3 separate regions of the Homo sapiens genome follow, and regions 1 and 3 are each linked to region 2. The links come from fine-mapping of genetic effects on gene expression. A gene starts in region 2. Each other region holds a variant in brackets. All regions are shown on one strand. Distances are between the middles of the regions.

Evidence for each region. PIP is the estimated chance that this variant, and not a neighbour inherited with it, causes the effect.
Region 1: its variant is fine-mapped to the expression of PNPO in transverse colon (CEDAR, PIP 0.95).
Region 3: its variant is fine-mapped to the expression of PNPO in monocytes after interferon gamma (Fairfax 2014, PIP 0.95).

The regions. Positions count from the first base shown.
Region 1 is chr17:47,998,586-48,001,429 of GRCh38, reverse strand. No RefSeq gene overlaps it. Among named protein-coding and RNA genes, the nearest start is that of CDK5RAP3, 29 kb to the right of the region's middle. The variant C/A (reference allele first, on the strand shown) is at 1,436.
Region 2 is chr17:47,940,281-47,942,780 of GRCh38, reverse strand. PNPO (pyridoxamine 5'-phosphate oxidase) reads right to left here and starts at 1,210. Exons shown (of 7, transcript NM_018129.4): 1 at 968-1,210. The coding sequence starts at 1,105. SP2-AS1 (SP2 antisense RNA 1) reads left to right here and starts at 1,377. Exons shown (of 3, transcript NR_103857.1): 1 at 1,377-1,434. RefSeq lists an enhancer at 1,164-1,458.
Region 3 is chr17:48,020,455-48,023,231 of GRCh38, reverse strand. No RefSeq gene overlaps it. Among named protein-coding and RNA genes, the nearest start is that of MIR10226, 11 kb to the left of the region's middle. The variant A/GAAAA (reference allele first, on the strand shown) is at 1,539.

The DNA of each region.
Region 1 (2,844 bases), 58 kb before region 2:
TTGGTCTTTCCCTATTTGCTAAGGGAAAATGAGGAAATCTCTTTTAGAAACAGAAAGAAGACAAAGTCTTATGACTGGTCAGCTGGTGGTAGCCTTCACCCTCTGCTGTGGGAGGTCAGGAGAGGGAGTGTGCTGGTTCCCAAACACCAGACCCCTCCCCAACGGGAGATTTTTAATAATCAGTATGTCTAGAGGCAGGGTAAGAAATTGTACTTTTTATTTTATTTTTTAAAATTATTTATTTATTTATGTATTTATTTTTTGAGACGGAGTCTCGCTCTGTCGCCCAGGCTGGGGTGCAGTGGCGCGATCTCAGCTCACTGCAGCCTCCACCTCCTGGTTTCACGCCATTATCCTGCCTCAGCCTCCCAGGTAGCTGGGACCACAGGCGTCCGCCACCACGCCCAGCTAATTTTTTGTATTTTTAGTAGAGATGGGGTTTCACCGTGTCAGCCAGGATGGTCTCGATCTCCTGACTTCATGATCTGCCCGCCTTGGCCTCCCAAAGTGCTGGGATTACAGGCGTAAGCCACCACGCCCAGCCTATTTTTATTTATTTATTTATTTTTTGAGACGGAGTCTCGCTCTGTCACCCAGGTTGGAGTGCAGTGGTGCAATCTTGGCTCACTGGGTTCACGCCATTCTTCTGCCTCAGCCTCCTGAGTAGCTGGGACTGCAGGCGCCCACCACCTTGCCCGCCTAATTTTTTTGTATTTTTAGTAGAGACGGGGTTTCACCGTGTTAGCCAGGATGGTCTCAATCTCCTGACCTCATGATCCACCTGCCTCGGCCTCCCAAAGTGCTGGGATTACAGGCGTGAGCCACCGCGCCTGGCCTAGAAATTGTACTTTTTAAATTGTCCCAGGTAATGACAATTCTGATGATTGGCAGATAGAAATCACTAGATTAAATGCCAGGTTTCTTTCAGTTACAAACATTTGTTTCTCCTCTCCTTTTCTTTTGCTTGCTGGCATTTTTTCCCACCAGCTAGAAGATATCAGCCCAGCTGATTCTACTAGGCTTGAAAGATAGCAAGCTTGGGAATATTGAAATCTTCACAGAACCTTGGCAAAAATAGCAGCGAAACATGCTTGCGGGGTGGGCCCTTCCACTACATGCAGAATGAGAGCTCCATGTTCACCCCTACCGTCCCCATCATAAAGACCAGACTGAAATACGATTTTAAGCCTGGTTCAGTAGCCCCATTCTACAAAACGGTACTGAAATACAAAAAATGTCATGGTCAGGAACTGCTGGAGCTATGGCTTGAGCCCTGCATTTGAACACTGGCCTCCACTTCCTGGCTAGCATCCTCCCCACCACATAAATTGATGAAGCTTATTTGGCTCCAGCTCTCCCTGGATTCATTCATTCATTCAGCATTCATTCTCCTGCAGTATCTGAATGGATTCAAATGTCACTTCATTTACCTTCA[C/A]CCTGCAGGGCAGAGGCACAGTTGTGGGGAGGTGGGTGACATTCCCTCCCCTAAAGCCATCCTCCTGCCACCCACTGAGAGATCCGCTAGTGAGAGACTGCTCTGGAGGGTGCCACTACCTGCCGAGGCCACCAGAAGGCCTTGGGACCTGCAGGGTTAAGCAACTCCAGAGGTGCTTCCTGGATCATCAAAGTTGACTTGCCCACACAGACAAGGCTCGATTAGCTAAATACAGTCATAAAACCTAAGCCTCATCATTGTTCGTCATTCTTCCTCCTGCATCACCTCTTGTGGCCTGTTACTTAGACTCACAGGATTGAGAGCTGGCACAAATCTCAGACTTCAAGTCCTGGGTTTTGGCAAAGCTTGATGTGTGTGAGGGGAGTGGGGAACCCTTGTTTCAACCAACCAAAGCAGTTCTGTTTATGTGTGTTTTTTTGTTTTGTTGTTTTGTTTTGTTTTGTTTTGTTTTTCAGACAGAGTCTCACACTGTCGCCCGGACTAGAGTGCAATGGCATGATCTCCGCTCACTGCCACCTCTGCCTCCTGGGTTCAAGCGATTCTCCTGTCTCAGCCTCCTGAGTAGCTGGGATTACAGGCATGCGCCACCATGCCCGGCTAATTTTTGTATTTTTAGTAGAGATGGGGTTTCACCATGTTGGCCAGGCTAGTCTCGAGCTGCTGACCTCAGGGGATTCGCCCACCTCGGTTTCCCAAAGGCATGAGCCACTGTGACCAGCCTGTTTATGTGTTTTTATATAACATGTTAGAGTTCTGGCCAGTGTCGTGCTGCTAAAAGTTTACTGGCTGGCTCTCACTTGGAGTGCTGAAGCCCTGATTTGTAGCCTTTGCTTATTTCTGTGGTGTAAATATTTCCACAAAAGCCCATTTCAAGCCACCAACTGGAAATCCCAGTGCAAAGTTGGGAAATGCACATAATTGGCTTTTAGGATCCAGTGCAAGCCAGCTTCAGCATGGCACTGGTTCTGGTCTTTTTTTTTTTTTTTTTTTAAGACAAAGTCTTGCTCTGTCACCCAGGCTGGAGGGCAGTGGCGTGATCTCAGTTCACTGCAACCTCTGCCTCCCGAACTCAAGCCATCCTTCTGCCTCAGCCTCCCGAGTAACTGGGACTACAGGCATACAACACCATGCCCAGCTAATTTTTGTATTTTTAGTACAGACAACGTTTCACCATGTTGCCCAGGCTAGTGTTGAACTCCTGAGCTCAAGTGATCCTCCAACCTCAGCCTCCCAAAGTGCTGGGGTTACTGGCATGAGCCACCGTTGCCCAGCCTGGTCCTTCTTTTTAAAAAGAAGTGTGGGCCAGGCATGGTGGCTCACACCTGTAATCTCAGCATTTTGGGAGGCTGAGGCAGGTGGATCACCTGAGGTCAGGAGTTTGAGACCAG
Region 2 (2,500 bases):
CTAATTTTAATTTTTTGTAGAGACAGGGTCTCACTATGTTGCCCAGGCTGGAAAAACTGCATTTTAAACAAGCGTTTCTAGAAATGCCCACATGCAACCAGATTTGGCAACCAGGGCCCTGGACCCCAATTCCTAAAAGGTTCTCTTGGTTCCCCTCCTGAGGAGCGAAAAGGAAAAGAACTTCCCAGTGGTCAGCAGAAAGTACTGAAGGCAGTAAGCTAAGAGCTTTCTCCTCCCCTCCTCCCCGAGCTAGTCCCCTTCCCCCATATTCCACTTACTTTTTTGTCAAACAGTTTGTAAGCTGTTTGTCACTGTACCCACCTAAAGAGGGGCCCATGACCATGCCCACCTGGCACAAGGAGGTTTGGGTGACCCCCAAATCTCCTTGCCCCAGGGGGTGGCCCCAGAAGCCCTGAGGGGCTGTTTCCTCCTACTCCCCTCCCCCCAGTAGATGACTCCGAGGACCCCTCTTCCCCCGCCCTTGAGGGAGGCCCAGCACAGTCCTGACATCCATCACATGAAACCCCGATTCATTCATCACTAGCTGTGGGACTGAGCAAGTTATTTGACCTTGCTACCTGTCGAGTAGCAGGGTTCTAAGCACTTTACAAACATCTTAGACCATAACATCCCCGTGAGGCAGATACTATCACTTCCCAGATGAGGAAACTGAGGCCCAGATACATTAAACATTCCAACCCAGGCAGGCTCCAAAGTTCGAGCTCTTACCCATTACGAAAGGCTGCCTTTTGAACCCATCTTCATTTGCGTTTCCCCGGAACTCCTCCCCTGGTGGGATGTCTTTGAAGCCCCCTTTTCCCACGGGGGGTGATCCTCAAACCTCCTTGCCCCACCGGGTGGCCCCAGAAGCCCCGAGGGGCTCCTACTACTCCCCTCCCCGCTGTAGATGACTCCGGGGACCCCTTTTCCCCCGCCCCTGCAGGAGGCCTGGCCCTAGCGGCGGCACCTCTCGGTCCCCGCGGTAACTCTTGCGCATGGGTCCCAGGTCCATGGCAGCACTGCGACCACACAGGTGACTGAGGTAGCCTGGCCACTCGGCAGGTCGCCCGAACGTCGCCGTGACGCCCCGCAGCCAGCACGTCATGGGGGGCCGCCGGCCACGTGACCCGGCTGTGGCCCGGCACTGGGTTCCTTTGAGTTCGGAACCAATTTCTCACCCTGGACTTCTACCCCGGGGAAGGAAGGATTTGCCAGTCGCCCAACCAAGCTAACAGGTCCTAAGTCCTCGGAGCCAATGAGTTTCCAGGATCGGAGGAGGGAGACAGACACGGAGAGGTCATTGGTTGGAGCTTTTCGGTAACGAGGCCAATTAGAGCGAGAACAGAGGAACCCAGCGGCCAATGGGTAGCGCCTTTGGGGGCGGGAGCAGAGAGACAAGGAAATGCTGTCACCGCGGTTAACACGCACGTGGAGGTTGGTTAAAGGTATAGGAGGATCTCTTGCAGCTCAGGCGGGGCGGAGGATGTGTCCCGGGGGCTTGAGGGGAGTAGTCAGTATTAAGTGGCTGGCCCATAGTAGGTGCCTGTAGGTGAGCTTAGGGCAGGAAGTACCCCCTGGGAAGGGAGACTAGTGGAATGGGAAAAGAAAAATGGAAAATGGAATTAGGGGCCAGACTCTGAGGCAAGGTGATGGGGACACATAGAGAAAAGGGTAATCTGGTTGTGGGGAGAAATTAGGGCATGAGAGTGGGAGAGGTTGAAATGACTTGTGGACCATGCCCCGAGTGGGGAGGTGCAGTGGGGTGAGGAAGAGACGGTGAGGTGAGAAGGAAGATGGCTGAATGGGAAGGGGGAAGAAGGAAATTTGGGACCAAGGTATCCCAGACCAGAGTGGTTTTCCTCTTCTAGTTTTGGTTTTGTTTTGTTTTGTTTGAGACGGAGACTAGCTCTGTCGCTCAGGTTGGAGTGCAGTGGCGCGATCTCGGCTCACTGCAACCTCCACCTCCCGGGTTCAAGCAATTCTCTGCCTCAGCCTCCCGGGTAGCTGGGATTACAGGCGCCCGCCACCACGCCCGGCTAAGTTTTGTATTTTTAGTAGAGACGGTGTTTCACCATGTTGGCCAGGCTAGTCTCAAACTCCTGATCTCAAGTGATCTACCCGCCTTGGCCTCCCAAAGTGCCGGGATTATAGGCGTGAGCCACCGCGCCCGCCACCTCTTCTAGTTTTAAACCCCTTCCCTCCAGCCTCATTTATTTAAGCAAGGGTCAGAGCATTTTACTCCCTTTGCTCATGGTTTCCCCTGCCATGGTGCACTGGAGTTCATAGGAGCCAGTGTCCTGGTAGATAGCAAGGCTGCCAATGTCCCATTTCTCCAGGGTCTCCCCAATCTTTGTCAAGCTTCCCTTTTTCCACATTTTGCCCATGCTAGGTAGTAGGAGTCTAGCCCCTAGGTCAATGCAAGCAATTGCCAACTGAGAGTACACTGAGCAGGTGGCTGTGCATAGCCTTTCCAGGCTGTGGATGCAAGGCTGAAAAATGG
Region 3 (2,777 bases), 80 kb before region 2:
TGCAGGTAATGTTGAATAATTTACCCAAAACAGTCTGGGCACAACCTTACAGACCTCCATTTCCTTCCAATTTAGGTCTCATTCATTCAACAATATTTGTTTGTTGATTCATTATTTCAAATATTTGAGTGTTTGCCATGAGCCAGGCACTGGGGAAAGAAAGAGAGAGACTGATTAGACTCCGTAGTGGGGTGAGGGTGGAGGTTAAAAGGCAGGAAGGGATTTAAGAGATATTTGAAAGTAGAAACGCCTTTAAAAATCAAATGATGTTCTTTATCTTGATCTGAGTAGTAGTAAAAAGTCACAGGCCGGGCGCAGTGGCTCACACCTGTAATCCCAGCACTTTGGGGAGCTGAGGCGGGCGGATCACAAGGTCAGGAGTTCGAGACCAGCCTGACCAACATGGTGAAACCCCGTCTCTACTAAAAATACAAAAATTAGCCAGGCATGATGGCAGGTGCCTGTAATCCCAGCTACTGGGGGAGGCTGAGGCAGGAGAATTGCTTGAACCCGGAAGGCGGAGGTTGCAGTGAGCCGAGATCTTGCCATTGCAATCCAGCCTGGGCAACAAGAGTGAAACTCTGTCTCAAAAAAAAAAAAAAAAAAGTCACAGAGTTTACACTTAAGATATGTGCTCTTTCCTGTAGGTAAGTCATACTTCAATAAAAAAAAAAAGAAATTAATCGAATGGCTGCCAAATTATATTCTAGCATCAATGTGTGTATGGTCCTCATCTGTTTCCTAATCTCTTCCTCATCTCTATGAACAGAAACTGGTAAACATGTTAGATGAGTTTCTAAATAAATAAGAGTGTGAGACACATGTAAATTTTATACTGCACATATAGATTAACGCCATTCCTCAAAATGCACCCTTTGGTAAGAAAAGCAACGTTAATAATAATAATAAAATAAACTCTTTTGGAATGAATTCGTTCAACAGACATTTACTAACAGGCTGTTTCCAGGCCAGGTACCTTGCTGGGGATTGTTGGGAGCTTCTAAAATGAATTGGGAAACACAGTTCCTGACTCAAGGAGATTACAATTTGGCTGGGGACAAAGTCATGTATGCAGATAAGGAAATGATAAATATTCACAGAGGAAACGGTGTATTACATAACATGTAAAGAAGGAAGATGGGGAAAGAGACACCCCAAAGGGAGCAACAACATAAGCAAGGCCAGAGGTAAGGAATCTCCGTTTAGGCTGGGCGCAGTGGCTCATGCCTGTAATCTCAGCACTTAGGAAGGGTGAGACAGGCAGGTTGCTTGAGTCTGGGAGTTCGAGACCAGCCTGGGCAACATGGCAAAACCCTGCCTCTACAAAAAAAAAAAAAATTAGCTGGGTGTAGTGGTGTGTGCCTGTAGTCCCAGCTACTGGGGGGAGAGGGGGCACCGTGGGCTGAGGTGGAAGGATCACTTGAGTCCAGGAGGCTGAGGCTGCTGTGAGCTGAGATCATGCCACTGCACTCCAGCCTGGAGGACAGAGCAAGACCCTGTCTAAAAAAAAAAAAAAAAAAAAAAAAAAGAAAAAGAAA[A/GAAAA]AAAATCTCTGTATTGTTTAAGGAATTTCAGTAGGCAAATGTAACTGGAATGGTGTGTGTCTGCAGGGAGTGTGTTGAGATCTGAGGTTTCTTCTAGATAGGTTGCAACTGGGTCGCAGTGAGCAATGAATGCCATGCTGAAGAATGACTGCTATTTATTGAGTTTGCTACTATATACACCTTAAAATTACCATTGTCCTCAAAACAACCTAACAAAGTAGGTATTGATAGGCTCGCTGCAGCCTCAACCTCCGGGGCTCAAGCTATCCTCTTACCTCAGTCCCCCGAGTAGCTGGGACCACAGGCATGTACCACCACACCCAGCTAATTTTTAAAAATTTTTTAATAGACACGAGGTCTCACCATGTTGCCCAGGCTGGTCTCAAACTCCTGAGCTCAAGCGATCTGTCCACTTTGGCCTCCCAAAGTGTTGGGTATACCGCGCCTGGCCCGTTAGCCTTCTTTTTACAAATGAGAGAGCTGAGAGTCTGAGAGACTGAATAACTTGCCTCAGAGCTCATAGGTGGGATTTAAACCCATTCTGGTCTGACTCCATTGCTGGCTCTTCTTTACCCCAACCACAGAGCTAAAGAACTTGGCTTGTGGCCAGTCGCCATGGCTCACACCTGTAATCCCAGTACTTTGGGAGGACAAGGTGGGTGGATCACCTGAGATCGAGACCAGCCCGACCAACATGGAGAAACCCTGTCTCTACTAAAAATACAAAATTAGCAGGGTGTGGTGGTGCATGCCTGTAATCCCAGCTACTCGGGAGGCTGAGGCAGGAGAATCGCTTGAACCCAGGAGGCAGAGGTTTCGGTGAGCCAAGATCGTGCCATTACACTTCAGCCTGGGCAACAAGAACGAAACTCCATCTCAAAAAAACAAAACAAAACAAAACAAAAAGTCAGTAAAGAACTTGGCCTGTGTTCTGAAGGTAATAGGGAACCACTGAAGATTTTCAAGCTGTTAAGTGATATCAGCTCTATGTTTTGAGGGAGGAACTCTGCTAGCAACATGGAACCTGGGTTAAAGAAGAGAACAGGAATTCAGGGTCAATTTATGACCCCCAAAACGAAATATTTTCATTACAGTCACTTCTCATTCTTGATCTAAAACAGTACCACCCAGCTTGATTGCTGATCTTACTCACCAAGCAGCTTGCAAAAATCAAGTCCACTCTCAGAATTTGAAGAGTTGGTGCTTGAATTAATTCAGATAATTGCAGGCAATCATTCC